Linked DNA regions of Homo sapiens. The protein of the gene in region 3 purifies or fractionates together with the protein of the main gene of each other region. This does not show direct contact. Each region holds a gene or a part of one and is shown on either strand. Other genes may lie near its edges. The genes, in order: PSTPIP2, ARHGEF6, LPXN and EDC3.

Region 1 (6,851 bases), on a different chromosome or scaffold from region 3:
GGAATTTTTTCTCATTGTGGCCTGGCTGTTTCCCTGGATCTTTGGAAACTGTGGTCACTGTCTTATTCTGACAAGATACAATCAAAGTTAACCAAGAGAAATTATACAGCACTGCTTAACCAAAGTGCCACAAAGAAGGTATAAACAGGGAAGGGTGGGAGAGAAACAACACACAGGTATGTACCAATAGCAGGCAAATTCATTGGGGGCCAATCCCAGTTTTATTCATTTATTTTAAAATGATTTTTAGAGACAGGGTCTCACTATGTTGCCCAGCCTCCTTAGTAGCTGGGACTACAGGCACACGCCAGCTCCAAGCCCAGTTTTAAACACTGATTATTCCCTTTTGAAGCAGATTCATCGAAGATTTCTTTAAATAAATATTTTCATGAAGCATTTAAATACATTCATTTATGAAGTGTGTATTGACTCATACTTTTTCAGGAACATGTACAAACACGTTTGACCACAGTCCTCTCACCTTCCTTGGAATGTCCCTCTCTTGGGCCTGTGATAGCTCTTTCCTGGTTGTATCCCTTCATCTCTTCCTCTATTTCTCTGTCCCCTTTCTCCTCCTCCATCAATAGAGGCATGCACTAAGAGTGCTTCTTTGTGGACTTCCGATCTCTTCATTCTTTCTCCTTGAATAACCATCACTCACTTCTTTTACTTGTCACCTCTACTGCTGATAATAATAGCTGGCAACTATAGGTGCTCTCTGTGTGTCAGGCACTGTACTAAACTCTCAAGTTTAATCCTCCCAACGGTCCTAAGGAGTAGACACTGTTATTATCCCCATTTTTATGTATGGAAAAACTGAGGCTTGGGGGCGGAAGCAGGCTGCCCAGGGTCACCTAGCTAGTAAGGGGCAGAACTGGATTCAAGCCCGGGCAGCCCACCTCAGAGGCTTCATGCTGTTCGGTAAGCTCTCAAAACTGGACATCTTCCCAAGGGGCGGGGCCATCTCCACCAGCCCCTCAAACCCTGCATGTCACCCACCAGACATTAGAGAGTACTCACTGACATGTTTGTACTGGCTGTGAAGATATTAAAATACTGCAAACTCTGTGGCCTGGAACCCTGTCTTCACCCTGTCACCCTCTCCGCTAAGACCTCCCCGTATCCAGCATCCCTGGCATGGGGCTGAGGGGTGGAGGCTGGTGGGGAGGGGCTTAGCGCCCGCCTGGCCTTAGCCTTGCCAGTGCTAAAACTGTGGCTAAATACTGAGGATTGTGTTGTTTGGTTGGGTTTGTTTGTTTGTTCGTTTTTGAGACAAACACAAATCACTCTGTCGTCCAGGCTGGAGTGCAGTGATGTGATCATAGCTCACTGCAACCTCAAACTCCTGGCCTCAAGCAATCCTCTTGCCTCAGCCTCCCAAGTAACTATATCTACAGGCATGCACCACCATGCCCAGCTAATTTTTAAGATTTTTTTGTAGAGACAGACAGAGTCTCACTATGTTGCCCAGGGTGGTCTCGAACTCCTGGCCTCAAGCAATCCTCCTACCTCGGCCTCCCAACGTGCTGGGATCACAGGCATGAGCCACTGTGCCTGAACTAAATACTGTTAGTATCACGTCTGCCTCCTTCTCCTTATGTCTCCACGAACCAGTTCCTCTGCTGACTTCCTTATTTCTGGGGCCCACATCTCATTCTCCAGTTTGTATTATACAGAGCCTTTTTCCCACAGTGCCTGCCATGGGATCCCCCAGTCCTCCATTCTACCTGAAAAACTCGCAAGCCTCCCGTGAGAGCCATCTGTGGTGCCCTTGGTTCCTCTGTGAGGCTGCCACCACCCTGCACCCTAGGGTGAGTAGTGCCCCAGAAGGACCTCACAAACTCCAGTGAAGGGACTCACAGGCACAGTCTCAACTGTGTCCCTGAGGTCCCCAGCCAGGTTTCTCTACCCTGCAGCCCACGTGGGGTAGAGGGACCATCTAGGCAGCTGTGAAGCTACCTGGGTGGGTGGTGGGGGGAGGCAAGCAGGAGCCCCAGTAAGGAGTCAGGGCCCCTTGGCAGCTGCGGTCAACTTTGAGGTTTGCAGCCTCCTGCTCCTGTCTTAAAGGGATGAGGACAGCTCCTCTGAATGAGGGGGCATGGACCTTGAGGGGCACCTGGGGAGTGAGAGGACAGAGGGAAGAGGACTAGACAGAGGAGGGGGACAGGCAGACCTGCTCCCTCCAGGCTGGGCTGGCCCTACCGGGCTGGGTGGGGTACCCCCTCCAGCTTATAGGGTCTCCCACACCATCAGCCCCGCTATGGGGCCTGGACGGAAGGGCTGGGGCAATGGCCTGGGGAGGGGGCTCGGGAAACAAGGCTGTAGAACAGGGAAAGCTCCAGCAAAGGGAAGCCCTCTATGCTGTACGTTTCCTGGAAAGGACGATCCCGGGGGGCAGCTGCTGCTGTCAACCCGGTAAAGCTCACAAGCCCCCACACCAGATCCCCCCAGATCCTCTCACGGCTCAGCTCCAGGGACCGGCAGAGACTCTCCCCGGACGGGTCTCGCCTCCCTAAGGGTCTCTGCTTCGCCTGTGAGAGGAGGGGTTGATGTCCTGACTCTAAGGTGTCTCGGCTCTCTGCGTCCTCAGGAGCACGCGCTGCTGGGGGCGCGGGCGGCAGAGGGTGGGCCCTGGAGTCCGAGCCCCCGGGACTCGCGGGCACGCGGTGGGTAGCGGGGGACAGAGAGGGAACAGCAGCCCGGCGTCCGCTCCAAGTCTGCCCCTCGAGCAGTGGGGCTGGGGCCCCGATCCCTTCACGCGCGAGCTCCGCCAAGCCCCCGGGCGCGCGGTCACCGAGTGGCGCCGGAGCTGGGGAGCCCCCCACGCCCGCCGCGTTGGCCTCCCGCCCGGGCCGGGTCCTGAGCCCCGCGATCCGCTGTCGGCCCCACGACTTACCCAAAAGTTTCCCTTGAACAGTGAGCGCGTCATCGCAGCGCGAGTGGGGGCGCGGAGGAGAGCCGGGCCGCAGGTAGCACAGAGCGGGGAGGCCTGACTGCCACTGCCCGCGGCTCCGCAGACTCAACTTCTGCGTTCCACACTCGCGCAGGGAAGCCGCCCCCGGGTCCTAAACCACTCCCGATTGCGACGGCCGCCGTCGGCGCTCTGCGCTCCCTGCGCGAGACCTGGGCGGGACCCTCGGCGCTCACCCGGCCAGGGGCTGCAGCCCGCACCCGGACCCAGGCCCATTTAAAGCCCCACAGCGTCGGGCCACGATCAATATATCAGCCCGAAGCTAGCTGCCTCCTTCTGGAAGTCTTTGGGTATTGGAAATAACTGGTCCTGGCTTGGGTTCCTGCCCACAAGGCCCCCTGGACAGCACGAAATCCAGGCTCTGCGGGGTGATAGACGGGATCTGATCAGATGGTCGCGAGGACCCGGTTTAAGCTACAGAAGGCCTGGGGCCGACAACTCCCGCAGACGCCTTGGCTTCACGGCGGGCCCCACCGGCACCTGCTGCAGATCAGGCCCTGGGGGACGGTTCATTTTTTATTTTACTTTTTGTTGTTGCAGGTGTTTTTAATGAATGGGGTCACGTTTTAGTCTAAAATGTCATGGAGAGGTCATCTCTGCTGTTTCCCCTTGACTCTAGTCACTTGGTGGTGTCCTAACAGGGCTTCCAGGAGCTCAGCCGCTCTCTGACTCCCTTTCCATTCTCAAAAGGCAAGACCCTTCCCTGCCCATTCCACCCCAGCAAGAGGGGCCCAAGATTCCTTCTTCTCCCTCCACTCTTCCACCCTCACAAATAAAACCCCAGGGCAGGTCAGACCCCTCTCTGCATTGTAGTAGATTGGTACAAAAGTAATTGCGGTTTTTGCCATGACTTTTAATAGTAATGCAGGGCTTATGACAAAGTACTGCCTGGTGCGACAGGCCCGAAGCCCAACCTGAGGCCCAGAGGGGTTGAATGGCTTGCCCAAGATCACAGTTTATTTAAGGGATGAAGAGCTCAAGGTTAGAGCTCTGCCCTTCTAAATAGATGCAAAGACAGACATCCTTCCTGGGGCAGATCCATCCTGGGCAGAGGAATAGGTGCTCAAAGTGGGGAGGATAAAGGTCAAGGTTGCCAAGACTGGCACCAGCCCAGCCTGGAGAAGCAAGCACTCACCCCTGGAGCAGGTTCTAGCTACACCCAGACACAGTGAAAGGGCAATTGCTAGAATTATGTGAAGCACCTGGAACAAGTTCTGCTCCATAAAACTGCAGCCAGCCCCACTCAGATGAACTCCCACCAATAAAGTCATCCACAACTGCAAAGATGGAGAGGTGGCCTCCAGCCACCAAGCATCTCCAAGGGATGCATCCATTTACGTACTTGCTCATATCCTTTGAAAGCAGTGAGATTAGAAGGAAGGCAGAGAAGCCTGGCAGAACCATCAAGGGGCAGCAGAGGACGTGGTAGGCACTAGGAAGCTAGGCTTAACTGCAGGGGGTAAGAAATGGCACAAACTGGGGACATAGAAGCGGGAGAGCTGAAGACACCACTAAGGTTTTTCCTGGAAGTTTTAAATATTCTGGAAAAATAGTTTAGATACAATTCTAATTGTCACATTTTAATTTTTAATACATGTATAATTTTAAGTTATTAGAACGTTTCACAAGCTCTCACAGTACATTGTGCTTGATTTTCGCGACTCAGACTCTAAGCTCCCTGAATTTTAACCCTCTTCCGCCATCTGGTGACAAAGTTTTTAATTGCAAATGGTCATCCACGCTGCTGGAAAATATTCTTCATTCCTCAAACAGCTCATCTCTGGGGCAGGTATTGTGAGTAAAAAAACAAACAAAGTGTGTGCTATATCCAAGGGACATATTTAGGATATTTTACTAACTTCTGTGGTTTGAATGTTGCCCCCTCCAAGAATTCTTGTTGAAACTTAATCTGAAATGAGACAGTATTGAGAGAGGTAGGATCTTTAAGAGGTGATTGGGTCACGAGGGCCACTAGTCCCATTCATGGATTAATGGGTTAGTAGATTAATGGGTTATCAGGAGATGAAACTGGTGGCTTTATGCTTTATAAGAAGAGGAAGAGATGGCTGGGCACAGTGGCTCATGCCTGTAATCCCAGCACTTTGGGAGGACAAGGCAGGTGGATCACCTGAGGTCAAGAGTTCAAGACCAGGCAGGCCAACATGATGTAACCCCATCTCTATTAAAAATACAAAATTAGCCGGGTGTGGCGGCACACGCCTGTAGTCCCAGCTACTTGGGAGGGTGAGACAGGAGAATCGCTTGAACCCAGGAGGCATAGGCTGCAGTGAGCCGAGAGTGCTACTGCACTCCAGCCTGGGCGAGACAGAGTGAGACACCATCTCAGAAAAAAAAAAAAAAAGAAGAAGAAGAGGAAGAGAGGCCTGAACTAGCATGATCAACCTCCTTGCCATGTTACACCCCATGCCACAGAGTCCCTACCAGCAAGAAGGCTGGCACAAATGCGGCCCCTCAACCTTGGACTTTTCAGCCTTCATAACTGTGAGAAATAAATTCTTTTCCTTTATAAACTACCCGATGTCAGATACTCTGTTATAAGCAACAGAAAACATACTAAGACACTAACAAAATTAAACAATATTATAGCAATTATGAAATAATGAAATTATTTAATATATTTAAGACATAATACATTTAAGATAATCGCTGTGAATATTTTGGCATACTCTCTTTCAACTATATATTTGCAAGAGTAAGTTCTTACTGTACATAAAATTTTGAGTCTTGCTTTTTTAACTTAGTATTTCATAAGTATTTTCTAAAATCACTCAATGTATTTTTTCTAACAAAAAGTTTGATAGAATACAGGGCTAGCCACTTTATAAGCAGACAATTTTGCACATAAAAATTGAAAATCTCTGTGAAGGGCTGGGCAGGGTGGCTCACATCTGTAATCCCAGCACTTTGGGAGGCTGAGGCAGGCAGATCACTTGAGGTCAGGAGTTCGAGACCAGCCTGGTCAACATGGTGAAACCCCGTCTCTACTAAAAATACAAAAATTAGCCGTGCGGAGGTGGCGCAGCACCTGTAATCCCACCTACTCGGGAGGCTGAGCCAGGAGAATCGCTTGAGCCTGGGAGGTGGAGGTTACAGTGAGCTGAGTTTGCACCACTGCACTCTAGCCTGGGCGACAGAGTGAGACTCCATCTCAAAATAAAATAAAATAAAAATATCTGTGAAGAGAAATTTGGCCATGTGATCAAAATGTAAAATGCCCCTATCTTTTGACCCATTAAGTCCATGTCAAAAAACTTACCTTACAAATATATTCTCACATATGCAAAGTAAAAGATGACACAGTTGTTCATAGCAGTGTGGTTATTTTGGCAAAAGACTTGAAATAATTAATGTCCATCCATGGAGTACTAGCTCAATATATTGTCATATATCGATCCAATGAAATCATATTCAAGCATAAAAAATGAGGAAGCTCTTTGCGTATTGATATGGAACAATCATCAGATATATTAATAAGTGAAAAACAAGGCAAAACAAGCTGTCACTAGAATGAGAAGAAAAAAGAACACACACACACTTTCTTTTTTTTTTTTTTTGAGACAGAGTCTTGCTCTGTTGCCCAGGCTGGAGTGCAGTGGTGCCATCTCGGCTCACTGCAAGCTCCGCCTCCCGGGTTCACGCCATTCTCCTGCCTCAGCCTCCCGAGTAGCTGGGACTACAGGCGCCTGCCACCACGCCCAGCTAATTTTTTGTATTTTTAGTAGAGACGGGGTTTCACTGTGTTAGCCAAGATGGTCTCTATCTCCTGACCTCGTGATCCGCCCACCTGGGCCTCCCAAAGTGCTGGGATTACAGGCATGAGCCACCGGGCCCGGCCCACACACACACTTTCAATGGTCCC
Region 2 (7,033 bases), on a different chromosome or scaffold from region 3:
CACTGCACTCTGCCTGGGCAACAGAGTGAGACCCTGTCTAAAAATAATAATTAAAAAAAGAGAGAGAGAGAAGAAAAGACTACTGAAGAGCAATTCGATTTCATTCTCTGGCTATTGTTACAAAAAAAAGGTAAACAGCTAGCAGTATTCAGTGAGTTAAGGGCAATCTTGTTCAGCATCAAAGCGGCCAGACAGCTTCCTGCAGCCCTATCATTATTATCTCTCATGTCTGAGGCATTTAGTCTCAGGTCTGCTTACAGGGCTTAAGGCTAAAAAAAGGAAGTTAGCACATGGCCTCTCTTATTATTGGATTCTGCCATGGTAAGTTTTAGAGTGGTGAGAAGGACTATGTACTATATTACATGGGCTAGAATTAGTAGACATAAAGGGATACAGTTAGGGTGGACCAGTTGTCTGAGCTTTGAATTCCTTTGCTTTTTTTATTTTTCTGCTGCCTTAATGTAATCTAAATACAATTTGTTTCAAAATATCTAATCACAGATTTTTCCCAGTTCTGTTCTACTCTTATTTTTGGCATACACATACAAGTATAAACAGCTTCTGTTAACCAATTAAAACTACACAATTTTCAGTAAGAATACCAAGAAAGTACAAGAGTCACAATCAAAAAGCCTTTTAAAAACTTCACTTACCACTGGATTTAATTTCACGGACATAATTACTGGGGAACCAGCCTGTTCTCCCATTTAATGTGCCTTCCCACCAGCCTCCTTCTTCAACTCGTGTGACGTAAATGATGTCCCCCTTACAAACTGACAGTTCATCCTCATTAGTCTGCTTAAAGTTGAATCTTGCTTTTACTATCAACTGATGACTTCCATTTTCCGTCATCTCCTAGAGAAACAAAAGCCACACCAGATTAAGCACTCATCTAAATAAGGCAGGGGTAGAAATGATATGGATATAGGCAAATAAAGTGGAGGAAGCAAAGACAAAACCCCAGATCCATCTCAGTCCTGAGTTTTTAACTTAGGAATCCATGAATGGGTCTCAGAGGGATTAATAAATCCCTCAAAACAGTATGTAAACTTTGGCATTTGTGAGAATCTGTATTTTGAAGTGGGTCATAGCTTTCATTTTTCTCTCCACACCCCTCCCCATTATCTAAAGATTATCTATTTAACTAAGCCAGATAACAAAGTAGAGTGATAAGCTATTCCACCCTGGATAAGCTATTCCACCCTGCCTCTACTCAACACACAAACAGTCCACATAATTATATAACCAAGATGTACTAACCTACCCTCCATAAAATCTGCCTCCCATCTCCTAATTACTAAGGATATCTTAATTTGGCTAAGACTTATTTATATGCAAAGATCAAATAACCCATAGTTGCCTAAGTCAGGAATTCTTTTTTCCATTTTTTTATTTTTATAGATTTAGGGGGTACAACTGCAGTTTTATTACATGGATATATTAAGTCAGGAATTCTTAATCTGTCATGTATAAACTGGACTTCCTTTTTGAGGGTCACAGACCCTTTAGAGAATCTGATGAGCACAACATATTTTTGTCTAAATAAGTTCATACACATGGGCTTTTGTATACAATTTGAGAGGGTACCAGGGGTGTAGAGACATAGTGTTCATCAGCCTTTCAAAGGGATCTGTGATCCAAAAAAGTTAAGAACCACATGCTCAAGTGCTTTGGAAGTAATAGGTCATAATGTCTTACTGCAAGTGGGTGGCTTTTGACAGGAAATAAAGGTTTCACCCAAAGAGCAGAAGATGAGGCATTTCCTCCCAAATAAAAGCTCCCAATAAGAGCAAGTGAAAAGGCAACTGGGAGATCCTAATATAGAAGCTCATCATAGACTGAAATTTAAAATCAAGCCTTCCTCATTAGGAATGGAAAGAGAAAAATAAAAATGGCAATAATAATGAGGATACTAATCAATATTTATTGATTGCCTACTATGTGTCAGGCACTATTTAGTTCTAATAAAACAAGGGATAGGGAAATTAACAGCAAACTGCCATCAGAAAGTAGCCATAATGACTTCCATTTGCATAGCATTCTCAGTTAAGTGACTTGCCTAATTCTCGTAAGGGACAGAGCTGGAGCTTCAATCCGGATTTTTGCCCCACCACATGCCTTTGATTTGCTCCTTCGGGCCAGCCTGAATTGGTGCTCGGTTTATAATTAGTTTTCTCAGTGATGCCCAAAACAACCCGGATGGCTGTCTCACCACATATGGAGATGCAACTAGGATATCAATCTAATTTTATGGATTTTAAAACAGACGGAGAATTGGGGACTATACTTACCACTGTCTTTGACTGCCTTTGCAGCCCTGAAACTGTGCTAGAAACTGCTCCCTGTGGGTTTGTCTGAGAAGTATTAGCAGCACTAAGAGAAGAGGAACGTCCACATGGTCTTTCTGATAGCTGATCTGTGAAAAGAGGAAAAGGCATGTTAAAGGAACCACTCAGATCAGAAAAACATCTACCGCATAACATTATCTTTCTCAGGATACTATCAGAGGCATCCTGGCTGTAATTCTAACTGTTATCATTATGAACATGCCAAGTGTATTTCAATCCCCCTTCCCTTTTTGGTGGCCAACTTCCTGTTCTTAACCTTACTGGCCATCGTGCTCCAGTAGAATGAAAAACAGCGACAGAACCACATTTTCTCTTAACCATTTCCCTACAACTCTTCCCTCCTGAACCAGTTGCAACAGTATGCCCTGTTATCCAAGGCAGAACTATATTGGGTACCAAACAGCTGTTTGTGGCTCTTATTACTTTGAAATATTTCAAATTTCTCTCTTTGTTTTTTGGCCCATAACTCAGTGGCTCATTTCTTACTCACACGTAACAATATGTGTGGCATATATGATGTAAAATCTCCCTGATGTGTGTGGGGCAGGGTGGAGAATGAGAGTGAAAGAGAAGATGTGTTTGGGAAAGATGTAATCTTGATACTAGAATAATTTTTTTAACAATCAGATTCAAGAGTCTTCTCTTCCTTGAAACCTTGTGAAATTCGACCAGGCCAGAGCTGAGCTGGATGTTTTCAGTTTGTTGAGAGTATACAAAAGAGAGGAGCTGGCTTCTTGACAAATTTCAATAAGGGTTCTTTTCCTCTCCATTTATTTTTAAAAGATATAAACTGCAAAAGTCTAAAGCCCAAACATTCCCTAGGCGACAAGCTCAGTATCCAAGTAATTTCCTTGATGCTGTGGGTTTTAACTTTCACCTCCTTGTATTTTATAAATATCTGTGGCAAGGGAAGAGACTGTAAAACTTGCTAGGAGAGTTTGGCAAAGGAACGTATAATTTGTGTGGCATAATGTTAGAATTACACGATCCTCCCTGACTAGAACTGGATAGTTGTCATGTGTGTTAAATATAGTTACTTGAATTAGCTGTACTTTCAGCTATACGCCTTGCAATAGCTCAAAAGCATTTTTTTTTCCAAATAGCAAAAGAACAACTTTGGAGAAGTATTTTTACTTGTATTGCTATTATATACAGCTCTTTTGACAAAAACTATAATTACTCGATAGCTTCCTAGATGCTCTAACCTATTTGGCACTTGATTATATTGTCTGCTCTTGTCCTCTAATTGTTTCACGTGGGTAAGTTGAGTCTCCTTAAATAGACAGTAATTTTCTCAAAGGCAGGGACCATAGCTTTGACATTTTTTGTAGCACCTGGCGATGCTGGGCACACAGCCTCTTGACTCTACAACAGTTTGAGCAGCAAGCCTCGTGCTTGGGCATAAGGGCTCTGTAGTCATTCAGATGTGGGTCTGAATCCCAACTCAGCGACTAACTTTCTAGTTGGGCAACTGTTGGCCTGACTTTCCTTATCTGTAATATGGACCTAATAATAATAATACCTACCCCCAGTGTTGTTTCAAGGATTGGATGAGATCACCTGTGGCTCTTATGACAGCCTAGATCCAGGGCAAGAGCTCAAAGCATTTTAAGTATGATTATTACTATTCAGCTGTTGGTAAAATATACCAGGGAAGGAGTGAAGCTACATTCTAAGTGTATCATCATTTTCTTCACATTTACTAGCATTTATATTTAATACCTCTAGTGTGGTAGGTGTTAAACATTTAAATAAAAGATATTATTTTCACTCCCTATGACCCCAAGATTTCATTTTTGGTGCAAGGCTACTGAGGGGTTCCTTTACATGGACAAAGGCATACATAAAACAATGAGAAAAATATGTCTCTAGTGGGGAAAGGGAAGTGACGGCTGTATTTTGTAAACTCTATGAAAAAGGGAACTGGTCTTTCCTTTTTCTTCTCTGTTTTGTTATACTCAGTTGGTGATTCAGAGCTTTGAATGGAATAGTTTCTTAGTTCTTATCATTATATTAAGGGCATTAGAATAACATCTATGATAGGTATATTTTAAATCCTAAGCCATGAAAAATTCAAGCATTTGACATTTGTTGGGGTGTATTTGGGGGAGCAAGGGGAAAATTTGCATCACGAGAACAATCCTGGCCAGAGTTGGCTCCTAGGGTAATCACAAACACATGGATTCAAAAATGTCACCCAGAACATATAAATCACAAGCCCGGCTTACCTTCTGTTGCTTTGTTGACAGCTAAAAGAGTACTCAGTACCTTGGAGAAATTGACCCCTGAATAAAGGTCATCAGGATCAAATATCTATGAGAAAGGAAAATTGAAACCGTAAGACACTACAAGTATTCAACTCAACAAACAAAACTATCAAAAGGCCACTTCCTCCAGCTCTCCGGAAAAAAAAAAAAAAAAAAAAAGTGTAGAAGCCAAGACACAAACCTCCATATACCTTTGGGAGAAATGAGAGCAGCAGTTGAGCCGCCTAATGACATGTGGCAGGCCATCAGTGAGTCAGAGCAAAGCAGTAATGGGAAATGAGAGCCAAGCTGAGAAGGCAGCGCCCACCAGGAAATAAACAGTGCATACTCAGACCCACTCTTCTGGCCTGAATGTATCAATAGTTTCAGCCCAGTTACAGGAAGCTCATATGCATGGGTTACAATCAATGCCCATCACCTACATAATGTCCTCGACAGTCCATAAATAAGGAGGTGGAGCCTTTTTGACATGGTTGCATCTGTACAGTTTATTAGCTGTGCCTAGTTGAGTCACTGTCAAAAGTGCCTTTTTCTCTGCTCTCCTTCCTCCCAACTGCCACCCGCTGCATCCCAACTGCCTAGGATCCCAATTCCATGTTGCCCAAACTTTCTGCCCAGGTCTGCCTTTTGCTCCCAGCTTCAGTTCTGTTTCTGCTGTTTGACCTTGCCCCTCTCAGCTCATCATGAATTCAAGTATTTGCCTGCCTGGGCCTATGGGCTCTTCCTGGCTTTAGATGACTTTCCCAAATATGACCTCTGGCCTGTCTAATACTACTCAACTCTTGGCAAAAAACACATTAAGGAAATACATTTCACTTTACCAGTCAACTGTCAATCTGATATGCTATTGTCCCCAGTGAAGATACCAATCAGATGTTGTTTTCAATACAATTTACCTGTTACCTTTGAAATGTAGTCAGTGTGTTAAAATATATTGAGTCTCAAATATGTATATTTGAAATTAGAAGTGTTCTCATGCACAGGTACAATCTATTAATTTGCCAGCCAACAATGTAAGTATGCATATCTGAAGGTAACCAGATGCCCACCTTCTGGATGGAAATGCCCCTTCTAAAAACATTTTGTTCCAGGATGTCTAGAAGTCTCTTAAAGAAAACAGATTGCATCATTTTTTCCCCAAATGTGGTGATGGAAATAAAATGTACCTTTTCATATGGGACATGATTGGTAATGGGCATAGGATTTTAAAGGGTCTGTCTTCCCATTAGGTAGAGCCATTTGTTCCATTTTTAAGCTGCATATTTTCTGGGAACCATATCAAGACAAATTTCTATCTTTTTTGTACATGTTCTTGAAAACCTATAATCTGTTTTTAGAGTGAAAATATATAATATCAATTTTTCACGTTTTGGGGGGTCAATAAAGATACATGCAAATGCAAACCTACACAAGTCTGCCTATTCTAGGATTCACTGCTTTATTCATTTAATCAATGAATATTTTGCATTCAAAGTTAAAATGACCAAAAAGCCCAGATGCATCTAAAAATGAGACATTAATATATTTCTGGTAAAAGAGTAATGCTAATATTACTAAAGAGTTAAACAACAACACATTCCAAATATATTTCTGAATGCTACAATATAAAATTCAAACTTTTCCAGAAATACATTGACAAGAGTTTTGTTTTAGTTTGTCAAAGCCTGGGTGAACAAGAGGCAATAGACTAGAGAGAGTGTCTAGTATCTCCGGGGATTTCAGACTTATTGAGTCTCCCTTAGAACTGATCAACTGGGAAAATGTTAATGACATGTATGCCAAAATAGTAGCAAAGCAAAAAAAATCACTTGTTTTTAGCCCATCAGTCCTAATGGGAGTGTGCATGTGTGTGTGCATGTGGATACATGTTTTGGGTGGGTGTGGTAGAGATGAGTAGATCTAAAATAATAAGCAGAAGTTAAATATTAGCAGAATAAGGCATGAGAGCAAAAGTTGTGATAAAAAACCTCTCCCTCTGGTTTTAGTTGTTCCTTATCCAGGGTTATTAAATGCCTATACATGGCAACACTGGTATTATTCACTTGTACAAGTACTTGACTGATTTTGAAAATAAATAAACTAATCAGAAAATGAAATGTGCATCAAGAAGAGTCATTGCATCTGCTTGAGGGAAGTTTCCTGAACTGTACTCGGTTCTCTTTTGAGAAAACCCCAATATACTCAAGTTTATCCATGGACACTGTTCTTGCTGCAAGCCTATTCTGAGGCACTAGAAACTACAGAGGAAGGAGTTGGAAGAAGCCTCTGGGAACTGCTAGAGAAAGCAACGCCTAAGCATTATTATTTCAGAGTAGCTGGAGAATCAGATACAACCACAAACACCCTTCACCACACTATACCTTCTAAGTCCTAAATTGAATGATATTGAAAATTCCACCCTAGATCTTTCTTCCATGC
Region 3 (4,519 bases):
GAAACCCCATCTCTACTAAAAATAGAAAAATTAGCCTGGTGTGGTGGCGCATGCCTGTAATTCCAGCTACTCAGGAGGCTGAGGCAGGAGAATTGCTTGAACCCAGGAGGTGGAGGTTGCGGTCAGCCGAGATCGCGCCATTCCACTCCAACCTGGGCAACAAGAGCGAAACTCCATCTCAGAAAAAAAAAAAAAGGAAAAAGAAATGAATTTGTAAGGTTTCTAATGGAGAGCCAGGGTTTCTCCTCCTGTAAACAAAGTAATAAAAACAATTTTAAGAAGCTTTGTCATTTTTAAAAATGATTCAATCATCTAAGTCTAGAAAATAAAATGGTTATGGGACCAAACTAAAAAGAAAAAAAAGAAAAATTAGTGAAAAGGAGACCCTCCTTTTAATTTCTTCTGATTAAAAATTTTAAAGTGTGCATTGGATGGAAGGAAACGAGGTATGATATAATCTTAATTGTACATAGTGCCTAGTATATAACACGGGAAGCAGAAAGTTTATCTCCCAAACAAATATGACAATGAGTTATTGAAACCACAAGCCAGTTTATTTATCAATGATGTCAGTACTCAAAGTTGTCCAGTTAAAATCTACTTCCTCTTGAAAAACAAAAATACACTGAAGGAAGATGCAAAGAGCTAAAAGTGGTATCATGATTCCACAGCAGTGATTGTAAGACAGTGAGCCACAGGGAAATGGGAAAACGTGAAAAGAAACAAGTATCAGGACCAAATTAGAGAAGATATGAGTAGGGCCATCACTAGAGGTGAAAATGGAGAAACCTAAGAAAACCAGTGTTGGCATGAATTATGCAAGTGGAAAATACATCTGTAGAGGGACGAGATAGAAGGACCTAGATCTAACTCCAAGTGCTTGATTGGAGAAGAGAGGGAGAAAGAGAATTTATAGAATTAACTGTATAGAAGCCTAAAAAATAAGATTATCAGCCTAGTCATGTAAAGTCTAGAAGTTCCTTTATTTGCTCATCACCTTTCCTTTTTCTATAAGACTATTAAGCAGAAGGTCAGTAACAGAAAATTTACCCTTTCCTCTCCTCTCTTGGTTTAAATTTTATAAGGAATCTGAAGAGGCTATGGATCAGTTGGCATTACAGTGGGAAGAGCTTATTGAAGCAAGGTTGACAATAGGTCTTGTCATTCTGCTCCCTGAAAATGCCCTTCGACAACTGTGTCAGGCAGAAAGCACACACAAAGTGCTCAGGATGGAACTTGTACCCCATGGCACTGATACAACGGCCAGTGATGGGCTGCCCACACCCATGGCAGAGCGTTCCCCGGCGGTGATGGTAATGGAGCTCACAGAATGGACGTCCATCCAGTTCAAAGAAGGAGCCAGTAGAAAAACTGGTGAAGCAGTCCTGGGGTAGAGAGAAGAGAGAGAAAAAGAATGCAAATGTCAAGAGGTAAAATGTCAGCAAAGTAAAATTTTCAGCCTTGAAATTCCTGACAGTTACCTGCCAGCTACAGGAATTTCCCTCAGGTTCTTGACAAATGGAGACTAGATTTCCCGCTTGCAAAACAGACAAGCAAATGGATCTGTATCTCGTTTCTCCTTTAGGATGCGCACATCCATTCCTCATTCAGGACTGTGAACCCTTTCACTAACTGCAGCTCTTCCTCTCAGAGAGGAGAACCCTTGACTTTCCCTAAGTCCGAAAGAAAAGTGATTATACAGACCCCACAAACAAAGCACTCTGGGTGCCAGACAGTGTCCATGGCTGAAAGGTAGTTTTCCAACACTGGGCGATTGCAGCCACCACACTTGGGTGAGAACATGGCTAAGAAATCCTTTCGGCAATATGGCTTCTTGTCCTTCTCATGAAAGCCTGGAGAGATAAAATCAGGAATTCACTGTTGCAGGTTGAGCCCTGAAAGCTACACTGGAGACTGAGAGGAGGCCCTTTCAATCTCAGTGTCCTCATATTCAAAATAGGATGATTACTGTTACCTAATTCAAAGGGTAGTTGTAAGAAATAAATGAGATAATGCAGAGGAAGTGTTTTGGCATTGTGTCTGGTTCATAGTAAACATTTAATAAGTGTTAGGGGCTATTGCTCCTCAGTGCCTTTGTACTAAGTATTCCCTTGGCTTGGATAGTTCTGTCCCAGAGCCTGATATAGTTGTCCTCTTCATGTGATGCAAGAATCACTCAAATATCATCTTATCAGAGAGGCATCTCTTCAGTCCCTCCTTGTCACATCATCTTCTTTCACCGTCTTTATGGCATTTACCTTTATTTAAAATCATCTTTGTGGGCTGTCTCCCCTTACAGGAACATTAGCTCTGAGAGAAACTAGATATTGTTGATCTTGTCACCATTATATCTCTAATATCTAAAACAGCATCTGGGAAGAAAAAAAGCATCTGATATTTTAAAATAAAATACTACTAAATAATAATTTCCAGATGGATGCAAGATCTAAACACAATGACTCATACCATATATTTGAATTAAAAATAGATGTATTCCTCCTTTTTTTATTTTTTGTGTGGGTATATTATTTTTATTGTTTACCAGCAGTGTATGAAAATCCCAATTATTCCTCAGTCTTTACATCACTTGATATATCCATATATTTCCTTTTTAATCAATCAAATGGATGTTATCTATCTATACAATGTTATCTCATGGTAGTTTTGATTTGTATTTCCCGAAAGGCTAATGATACTTAGGGTTTTTTTAATGTGTGCATTTGCATTTCATATCTTGTCATTAATGATGTATTCCTCTTTAATCTGGAAACAGAAAAACTGTCATAAATAAAGCCCAAATTCCAAAAGCAAGTTAAATATTAATAAATTTAGCTACATAAAAATATATCTGAATGACTTACACATGTCAAAAAATCACCATAAACAAAGACAAATAACAATCTGAAGAAAATATTTGCTAATTATATTCCACTCCTGAGTATATGTATGGTTTCAACTATTGTTGTACATAATTAAAAAGTGAAAAAATTGGCCGGGCACGGTGGCTTGCACCTGTAATCCCAGCACTTTGGGAGGCCGAGGCGGGTGGATCACGAGGTCAGGAGATCGAGACCATCCTGGCTAACACGGTGAAACCCCGTCTCTACTAAAAATACAAAAAATTAGCCAGGTGTGGTGGCGAGCGCCTGTAGTCCCAGCTACTTGGGAGGCTGAGGCAGGAGAATGGCGTAAACCCGGGAGGCAGAGCTTGCAGTGAGCCGAGATCGCACCACTGCACTCCAGCCTGGGAGATAGTGAGACTCTGTCTCAAAAAAAAAAAAAAAAAGTAAAAAAATTAAAATGGAAAAACATGAATCCCTAAAAAATTGAATCAAATTGAAGAAAATTAACTGTATATCAAACTGATGACATGAGCAATAAAATAAATAATTTGGAGATTGCTGGCAGGATGACCGAATAGGAACAGCTCAGGTCTGCAGCTTCCAGTGAGATCGATGCAGAAGGCAGGTGATTTCTGCATTTCCAACTGAGGTAACCGGTTCATCTCATTGAGACTGATCGGACAGTGGGTGCAGCCCATTGAGGGCAAGCCGAAAAAGGGTGGGGTGTTGCCTCACCCAGAAAGCACAAGGGGTCAGGGAACTCCCTCTCCTAACAAAGAGAAGCCATTAGAAACTGTGCCGTGAGGAACAGTGCACTCCGGCCCAGATACTGTGCTTTTCCCATAGTCTTCACAAACCGCAGACCTGGAGATTCCCTCTTGTGCCTACGCCACCAGGGCCCTGGGTTTCAAGCACAAAACTGGGCGGCTGTATGGGCAAACACTGAGCTAGCTTTAGAAGTTTTTTTGTTTTTTGTTTTTCATAACCTAGATGCACCTGGAATGCCAGCGAGACAGAACTGTTCACTCCCCTGGAAAGGGGGCTTAAGCCAGGGAGCCAAGTGGCCTGGCTCGGTAGGTCCCACCCCCATGGAGCCCAGCAAGCTAAGATCCACTGGCTTGAAATTCTTACTGCCAGCACAGCAGTCTGAGCTCGACCTGGGATACTAGAATTTGGTGGAGGGAGAAGCATCCACCATTGCTGAGGCTTGAGCAGGTGGTTTTACCTTCACAGTGTAAACAAAGCCACTCAGAAGATCAAACTGGGTGGAGCCAACCGCAGCTCAGCAAGGCTGCTGTGGCTAGACTGCCTCTCTAGATTCCTCTTTTCTGGGCAGGCCATCTCTGAAAAGAAAAAGGCAGCAGCTCCAGTCAGGGGCTTATAGATAAAACCCCCATCTCCCTGGGACAGAGCACCCAGGGGAAGGGGTGGCTGTGGGCACAGCTTCAGTAGACTTAAACATCCCTGCCTGACAGCTCTGAAGAGAGCAGTGGATCTCCCAGCACAGGGTTCGAGCTCTGCTAAGGGTCAGACTGCCTCCTTGAGTGGGTCTGTGGCCCCCGTGTCTCCTGATTGGGAGACACCTCCCAATAGGGGCTAACTGACACCTCATACAGGAGAGCTCTGGCTGGCATCTGGTGGGTGCCCTGCTGGGATGAAGCTTCCAAAGGAAGGAA
Region 4 (7,850 bases), on a different chromosome or scaffold from region 3:
TGAAAGCCTGAAATGACAAGGAGAAAAATAATCATTCATGCCAAAGCAACACCACCATATCTTCAAACTTTTGACTTCTGCCCATAAATTTACTCTTAGCACATCTAGATCTAAACCTAATATTCCAGGTACAAGCCTACCAGTGATGCAACCTTTCTCATTCTAGATTTTGCATTTTCCTGATACAATATACTAATGCAGGTCACATCGGTTCTTCTCACAGCCTTCTTAACCACACCACTGATTGGTGATTAAAACATCACATCTTTTTATTATAGAACTCCTGTGAGGTCACATCTCCACCCTCCCCTAATAGGTATAGTTGATTTTGTTTGGACCCAAGCGCAATTTCTCACATTTATACATGCTTCCTTCATTTCATTAAACAGCACTGAGCAAATTATATTGAGATCTTTTCCCATTCTGGCAATCACCAACCAAATGACTCTTTCTTTACTTCACAAAGGCACCAAATCCAATAAGCAAACCTTCTAGATAAGGTCTCAAATACATGAAGTATATAAAGAAAGTGATGAAACCCCAGTTTAGATCACCGGAATTCCAGCTGTAAGTAGTGTCCACAAATCAAACCTCTCCATACATAGATTTTCAAACTCATGACTCCATCTAACTACCACAATCTGGCAAATTCCTCCATCTCGCCCACTCAGTTATAGTAAGACTCAGTAAGACCAGGCGCGGTGGCTCACACCTGTAATCCCAGCACTTTGGGAGGCTGAGGTGAGTGGATCACCTGAGGTCGGGAGTTCGAGACCAGCCCGGCCAACATGGTGAAACCCCATCTCTACTGAAAATACAAAAATTAGCCAGGCGTGGTGGTGCATGCTTGTAGTCCCAGGTACTTGGGAGGCTGAGGCAGGAGAATCGCTTGAACCAGGAGGCAGAGGTTACAGTGAGCAGAAATTGCACCACTGCACTCCGTCCAACCTGGGCAATGGAGTGAGACTCCATCTCAAAAAAAAAAACAAAAACTTCATAAATGCCTTGCTAAAATTCTGACACACTATCATTATGGTCACTACACTCCTTTGAGCCACAATTTGGATGTCCTGTCCTGTTGTTCTGGCTGAATTTAGGAGAACTCTAGTAAGCCCTTCTCTGGATAAGAAAAGAAAAATGATACATCTTCCATTTTGTATTAATTACAGAATCTCACAAATGGCAAGGATTTTAAACATTTTCTAATGTTGTTTTTCTTAGACAGAGTCTTGCTATGTTGCCCAGGCTGGCCTTAAGCAATCCTCCCACCACTGCACTCGGCCCTAGTCTAATATTTTTCTTTTCTTTTCTTTTTTTGAGAAGTTTAGTTCTTGTTGCCCAGGCTGGAGTGCAGTAGCATATCTTGGCTCACTGCAACCTCTCCCTCCCAGGTTCAAGCGTTTCTCCTGCCTCAGCCTCCCAAATAGCTGGGATTATAGGCACCCACCACCACCCAGCTAAGTTTTGTATTTTTAGTACATACGGGGTTTCACCACGTTGCCCAGACTGGTCTCCAACTCCTGACCTCAGGTGATCCACCCGCCTCAGCATCCCAAAGTGCTGGGATTACTGGCGTGAGCCACAGTGCCCGGCCTTAATATTTTTCAAACTATACGTCATGACCTATTAGGGGTCAGACTCAATTTAGTGAGTTGCAACCAATATTTTTTTAGAGTGCATCTTCTGTAGAAAGGGTAAGTAAACTTTTCATTGGTGTGTGTGTGTGTGTACACACTGAGTGTGCAGGGGCACAATAAGTCATGATGTATAATATATCTAACTGTGGGTCACAGGTAAAAAATTTTGAGACACTTTTCTAGCCCCACAGCCCTATGCCAAGGAGGCTCTACCAAGAAATTGGTAATAAACAAAATGTCATGTTTTTACATCATACAGAGAAACTAGCTAAGAGGATTTTGTGCTCAGTACACGTAATCTGCCATTCATTAAAAAAAAAAAAAAAGATTAGGATCCATCTGGGTGTCCAGTTGAAATACTAAACTGCTTGGAGACAGCCATTTCTGTTTTGGTGGGGTGAAGACCTGTATTTGAGACAGCAGACTGAAATCGGTTTGGTCTGTGGCGAAGGAAGAGAAGAAAAACCATTCTGGGTCGCGAGTTCCTCACCTGTAACCACAGGAGAAGACTGTTGGCTTGGTCAGTTGATTTTCAACTAATCTCCCAATTGAAGAGTTAGGCGAAGCAATTGCTATTGGGAGATTAACTGAAAATTAACTGACCAAGCCAACAAGGACTATGCCTCCCACAAACCAAAACACTTTAACCACTCAGCAAGTCAAGTATTGATACATACAATCAATATCACACAAAGTGTACTGAAAAGAACCACAGACTTGCATCAAAGGCAGAAATGAATCCAGGGATAACTTCCTGGGATTCGAAGATGTGACCTGGTAGGTATAAATTTCTCAGGCATCCTCTTTTTCTACCCTCCAGTTCATCTCCGTCCTCAAGCTATCAGTCATGGATGTGGCACTGGCGTTCTTCTCTGCCACCGTATCTCATTATGCAAAGGGAAACTGAGGCACGAAGAACAGAGTGAGTGAGCCAAAGAACTGCAGCAGCCACCAACAAGGCTGGACTAAGGGCCCAAGCAGCTAATGCCTCACTCCCCACACAATCCCCATACTATTTAGAATCCTGCAGTCCTCAGCCTTCCACCTCAAACCAAACTCCTGGGGCCGCCCGTAGTACGTGGTCCCCTGCTCATCCGATGAAGCCCCCAGCTCTTGCCTGCCTGCCTGCCTCTATAAAGGTCTACGAGGCCTGGAACTCTGAAGCCTAAAGCAACCCCGGCAGCCCCCTCCCACGACCGTCCACAAACCAGTAGCCTCCCTTCGCTCCCACCTCCGCGCCGACGGGCCTGGAGCTCCTCCGCACACCACACCAAGCCGACCACTCAACACCAGAGGACCCACAGAAGAATTCTCTCCACGCCCACCCCCACAGCATCGGCCTTCACCACCGCCGCCGCTGCCGGAAGCGCCCCCACGTCTCCACGCCACCACCGTGAGGTCACTTCCGGCGCGACACCTTGGAATCCAGGGCCGTCAATTGAGGGGCGTGGCACCCGGGAAATTTAAGAGGTTGGAAGAACGTCCCTTCGGCCTTACAGAATTGCGCTTGGGTAGTCATTTTGCCCTCCACGCTTACTTATGTCCTGTGGCGTCTTGGCTGGAATCGGGGCTCTACCCACGACTCCCCAGCCTCGATGCCTGGGCCCCCCTCTTGCAGGCTCGATGAAAAGCACCCGCTTCCCCTCCTGTTACCCCAGCGCCAATCGCAGAGCTGGAGCGGAGGACTTTCAGGGAGGCCTGGTGACGTGACAGCCCCTCCGTGCTAAACTGCAGCTGTGGGACTTAATAAGTGCGACAACCCCCTGATGGATTAAAGAAAACAAGATATTCCTGCCGTGGTCGATCTTCAAAGCGTATCAGCTTCAGCCCTTTTGGGGGTTAAAATCAGCCAGTCCGTGCTTGACTGCTCTCCCTTCCCCCATACTCAGTACACAGGAAAGTGCCGCTCTTCTACCCCTGGCATTTTAGAGTCTTGATTTGTGGGGAGACGGGAAAGCATGCGTTTAGGGCCAAGACCGTGTAATGAGGAATATTGCACAGCCTTGAAGCCTGACACCTGGTTTGGGAACCACTACTTGGGCGAATAGCATAGAGTAGGGTAGCAGTTCCAAACCTAGCTCTACAAAATCAGTTGAAGAACTTTGTAAAATCTACACTTTCTAGGGGACTGCTTCACCCTTCCCCCTCCATCACCAGAGATTCCCTAGGTCAGAAGGGGTCCTTGTCTTTTAAAATTACTGTTATTAATGAACACTTATAGAGCAGTTTTTGGTTCAGGGCAAAACTGAACAGAAAGTACAGAGTTCCCATATATCCCCTGTACACACAGGCACATACACAACTTGTCCCCTCATGGACATCTTGTGCTACAGTGGTACATTTGGTAACAATTGATTACCCAACTTTGACACATCATTATCACCCAGAGTCCATAGTTTACATTAGAGTTTACTCTCGGTGTTGCACATTCTGTGGGTTTTGACATATATGTAATGACATGTATCCACCATTATGGTATCATACACGATAGTTTCACTGCCCTGAAAATCCTCTGTCCTCTGCCTATTTATCCTTCTCAGTCCCCTAACCACTGGCAACCACTGCTCCTTTTACTGTCTCCATAGTTTTGCCTTTTCCAGAATCCCATATAGTTGGAATCATACAGTATGCAGCCTTTTCACATCGGATTCTTTCACTTATGCACTTAAAGTTCTTCCATGTCTTTTCATGGCTTGATAGCTCATTTCTTTTTTGTGCTGAATAATAATATTCCATCGTCTGGATGTGCTGCGGTTTATCCATTCACCTACTGAAAGACATCTTGGTGGCCTCCAAGTTTGGGTAATTATGAATAAAGCCGCTATACATCATGTGCAGATTTTTGTGTAGACATGAGTTTTCAATTCATCTGGGTAAATACCAAGGAGTGCAACTGCTGGATTGGATGGTATATTTAGTTTTGGGAGAAACTACCAAACTGCCTTTCAAAGTGGCTGCATCATTTTGCATTCCCACAGCAGTGAATGAGGGTTTCTGTTGCTCCACATCCTTGTCAGCGTTTTGTGGTGTCAGTATTTTGCCGTTCAAGTAAGTGTGTAGTAGTATCTTATTGTTTTAATATGCAATTCCCTAATGACATATGATATTGAACATCTTTTCATATACTTACTTGCCATGTGTATATCTTCTTTGATGAAGTGTTCATTCAGGTATTTTGCCCATTTTTACATTGTGTTATTTTCTTGTTGTGATTTAAGAGTTCTGGGTATATTGTAGATAACAGTCCTCTATCAGATACGTCTTTTATAATATTTTCTCCTAGTCTGTGGCTTGTCTTCTCATTCTTCTTTTGAAGAGCAGAAGTTTTAAATTTTAATGAAGTCCAGCTTATCAATTATATTTTTCACAGATTATGCTATTGGTATTGCCCTAAAGTCATTGCCATTCCCAAGATCAGTTAGGTTTTCTCCTGTGTTGTCTTCCAGGAGTTTTATAGTGTTCCATTTTACATTTAGGTCTACAATCCATTCTGAGTTAATTTTTATGAAGGGTGCAAGGTCTTTGCCTAGATAATTTTTTTTTTTTTTTTGAGACGGAGTCTCACTCTGTTGCCCAGGCTGGAGTGCAGTGGCACGATCTCAGCTCACTGCAATGTCTGCCTCCTGGGTTCAAGTGATTCTCCTGTCTCAGCCTCCCAAGTAGCTGGGATTACAGGCACCCGCCACCACACCTGGCTAGTTTTTGTATTTTTAGTAGAGGCAAGGTTTCACCATGTTGGCCAGGCTGGTCTCGAACTCCTGATCTCAATTGATCTGCCCACCTCGGCCTCTCAAAGTGCTGAGATTACAGGCGTGAGCCACCGTACCCGGCCTGATACATTTTTATGTGTGTGAAAATTCAGTTGTTCCAACATAATTTGTTGAAAAACCTATCTTTGCTCCATTATATTGCTTTAACTCCTCTGTCAAAGATCAGTTGACTACGTTTATGTGGGTCTACTTCTGGATTGTTTATTCTTTCACCAATACCACATTGTCATTATTACTGTAGTTTATAGTAAGTCTTGAAGTTGGGTAGTATCAGTCCTCCAACTTTGTTCTCCTTTAATAGTGAGCTGGCTCTTCTAGGTCTTTTGTATCTCCATATCAATTTTACAATCAGTTTGTCGACATCCACAAAAATAATATGCTGATACTTGGATTGGGATTGCATCGAATCTATAGATCAGGTTTGGAAGAACAGACATTTTGACTATATTTTCTTTCTATCTGTGAACATGAAATATTTCTCAATTTATGTAATTCTTTTATATCTTTGATCAGAGTTTTGTAGTTTTACTCATATAGCTCTTGTATATGTTTTGCTGTATAGATTTATAACCTGATGACTTTTTTTTTTTTTGAGACAAAGTTTCACTCTTGTTGCCCAGGCTGGAGTGCAGTGGCACGATCTCAGCTCACCGCAACCTCTGCCTCCTGGGTTCAAGTGATTCTCCTGCCTCAGCCTCCCGAGTACCTGGGATTACAGGTATGCACCACCACGCCCAGCTAATTTTGTATTTTTAGTAGAGATGGGGCTTCTCCATGTTGGTCAGGCTGGTCTTGAACTCCCGACCTCAGGTGACCTGCCCGCCTCAGCCCCCCAAAGTGCTGGGATTACAAGCGTGAGCCACCCAGCCTACCTTTTGTTTCTCTAAATCTGCTCTTTCTGAAGTTAGTATACCTACTCCTGCTTTCTTTTGATTAGTGTTATCAATGATATATCCTTCTCCACCACTTTACTTTTAATCTATGTATGTCTTTATATTTAAAATGTGTTTCTTGTAGACAACATATTGTTGGGTCTTGTTTTTCATCCATACTGAGAACCTCTGTCTTTTAATTGGTGTATTTAGATGACTGATGCTTAATTAATGATATAGTTGAATTAATGTCTACTATATTTGTTACTGTTTTTTTTTTCATTTTTTGTTGTTGTTGTTTGTTTTTTGAGACACCGTCTCGCTCTGTTACCCAGGCTAGAGTGCAGTGGCATGATCTCAGCTCACCACAACCTCCATCTCCTGAGTTCAAGCGATTCTCCTGCCTCAGCCTCCCGAGTAGCTGAGATTACATGCACATGCCACCACAACTGGCTAATTTTTGTATTTTTAGTAGAAATAGGGTTTCACCATATTGGCCAGGGTGGTCTTGAACTCCTGACATCAAGTGATCCACCAGTCTTGGCCTCCCAAAGTGCTAGGATTATAGGTGTGAGCCACCACACCAGGCCCTTTTTTTGTGTGTGTGTGAGTTGGAGTTTCACCCTGTCACCCAGGCTAGGGTACAGTGGTATGATTGTGGCTCACTGCAGCCTTAAATCCTGGGCTCAAGCAATCCTCCCACTTCCCAAGTGGTGGTACTATAGGTGCCCACCATCACACCTGGCTAAGCTTTTTTTTTTTTTTTTTGAGATGGAGTCTCGCTCTGTCACCCAGGCTGGAGTGCAGTGGTGCCATCTCTACGAAGTGAAACCCCGTCTCAATGCAAGCTCCGCCTCCCGGGTTCATGCCATTCTACTGCCTCAGCCTCCCGAGTAGCTGGAACTACAGGTGCCCGCCACCATGCCTGGCTAATTTTTTGTATTTTTAGTAGAGATGGGGTTTCACCGTGTTAGCCAGGATGGTCTCGATCGCCTGACCTCGTGATCTGCCCACCTCAGCCTCCCAAAGTGCTGGGATTACAGGCGTGAGCCACTGCGCCCAGCCTGCTAAGCTTTTTTATTTGTTTGTTTGTTTTGTAGAGACAGAGTCTCACTATGTTGCCCAGGCTGCTTTTCAATTCTTGGTGTTAAGTGATCCTCCTGCCTCAGCCTCCAAAAGTATTGAAATTGCGGTGTGAGCCATGGCACCTGGCCTTGTTACTATTTTCTGTTTGTTACCCTTATTTTTTATCTGTATTTGTCTTCTACACATTTTCTGCCTTTGGGGTGTGTGTGTGTGTGTGTGTGTGTGTGTGTGTGTGTGTGTGTTTATGTGTGTTTGAGATGGAGTCTTGCTCTTGTTCCCCAGGCTGGAGTGCAGTGGTGCCATCTCAGCTCACTGCAACCTCTGCCTCCCAGGTTCAAGCGATTCTCCTGCCTCAGCCTCCCAAGCAGCCGGGACTACAGGCATGTGCCACCACACCTGGCTAATTTTTGTATTTTTAGTAGAGATGGGGTTTTGCCATGTTGGCCAGGCTGATCTCAAACTCCTGACCTCAGGTGATCCACCCG

Evidence for each region.
Region 1: the proteins of LPXN (region 3) and PSTPIP2 purify together in Homo sapiens (co-immunoprecipitation; 3 studies listed by BioGRID and IntAct, with this or other methods). This does not show direct contact.
Region 2: the proteins of LPXN (region 3) and ARHGEF6 purify together in Homo sapiens (co-immunoprecipitation; 3 studies listed by BioGRID and IntAct, with this or other methods). This does not show direct contact.
Region 4: the proteins of LPXN (region 3) and EDC3 purify together in Homo sapiens (co-immunoprecipitation; 3 studies listed by BioGRID and IntAct, with this or other methods). This does not show direct contact.

Annotation. Positions count from the first base shown.
Region 1 is NC_000018.10:46,069,260-46,076,110, forward strand, and holds the start of PSTPIP2 (proline-serine-threonine phosphatase-interacting protein 2), read right to left. Parts: upstream 3,002-6,851; 5' UTR 2,930-3,001; coding exon 2,897-2,929; intron 1-2,896. UniProt on the Homo sapiens protein: Binds to F-actin. May be involved in regulation of the actin cytoskeleton.
Region 2 is NC_000023.11:136,742,932-136,749,964, forward strand, and holds part of ARHGEF6 (rho guanine nucleotide exchange factor 6), read right to left. Parts: intron 4,662-7,033; coding exon 4,577-4,661; intron 2,417-4,576; coding exon 2,292-2,416; intron 856-2,291; coding exon 654-855; intron 1-653. UniProt on the Homo sapiens protein: Acts as a RAC1 guanine nucleotide exchange factor (GEF).
Region 3 is NC_000011.10:58,526,339-58,530,857, forward strand, and holds the end of LPXN (leupaxin), read right to left. Parts: intron 4,187-4,519; coding exon of another isoform or gene 4,092-4,186; exon of another isoform or gene 2,235-4,091; intron 1,854-2,234; coding exon 1,705-1,853; intron 1,386-1,704; coding exon 1,116-1,385; 3' UTR 533-1,115; downstream 1-532. UniProt on the Homo sapiens protein: Transcriptional coactivator for androgen receptor (AR) and serum response factor (SRF). Contributes to the regulation of cell adhesion, spreading and cell migration and acts as a negative regulator in integrin-mediated cell adhesion events.
Region 4 is NC_000015.10:74,693,012-74,700,861, forward strand, and holds the start of EDC3 (enhancer of mRNA-decapping protein 3), read right to left. Parts: upstream 3,014-7,850; 5' UTR 2,869-3,013; intron 2,805-2,868; exon of another isoform or gene 2,355-2,804; intron 8-2,354; exon of another isoform or gene 1-7. UniProt on the Homo sapiens protein: Binds single-stranded RNA. Involved in the process of mRNA degradation and in the positive regulation of mRNA decapping. May play a role in spermiogenesis and oogenesis.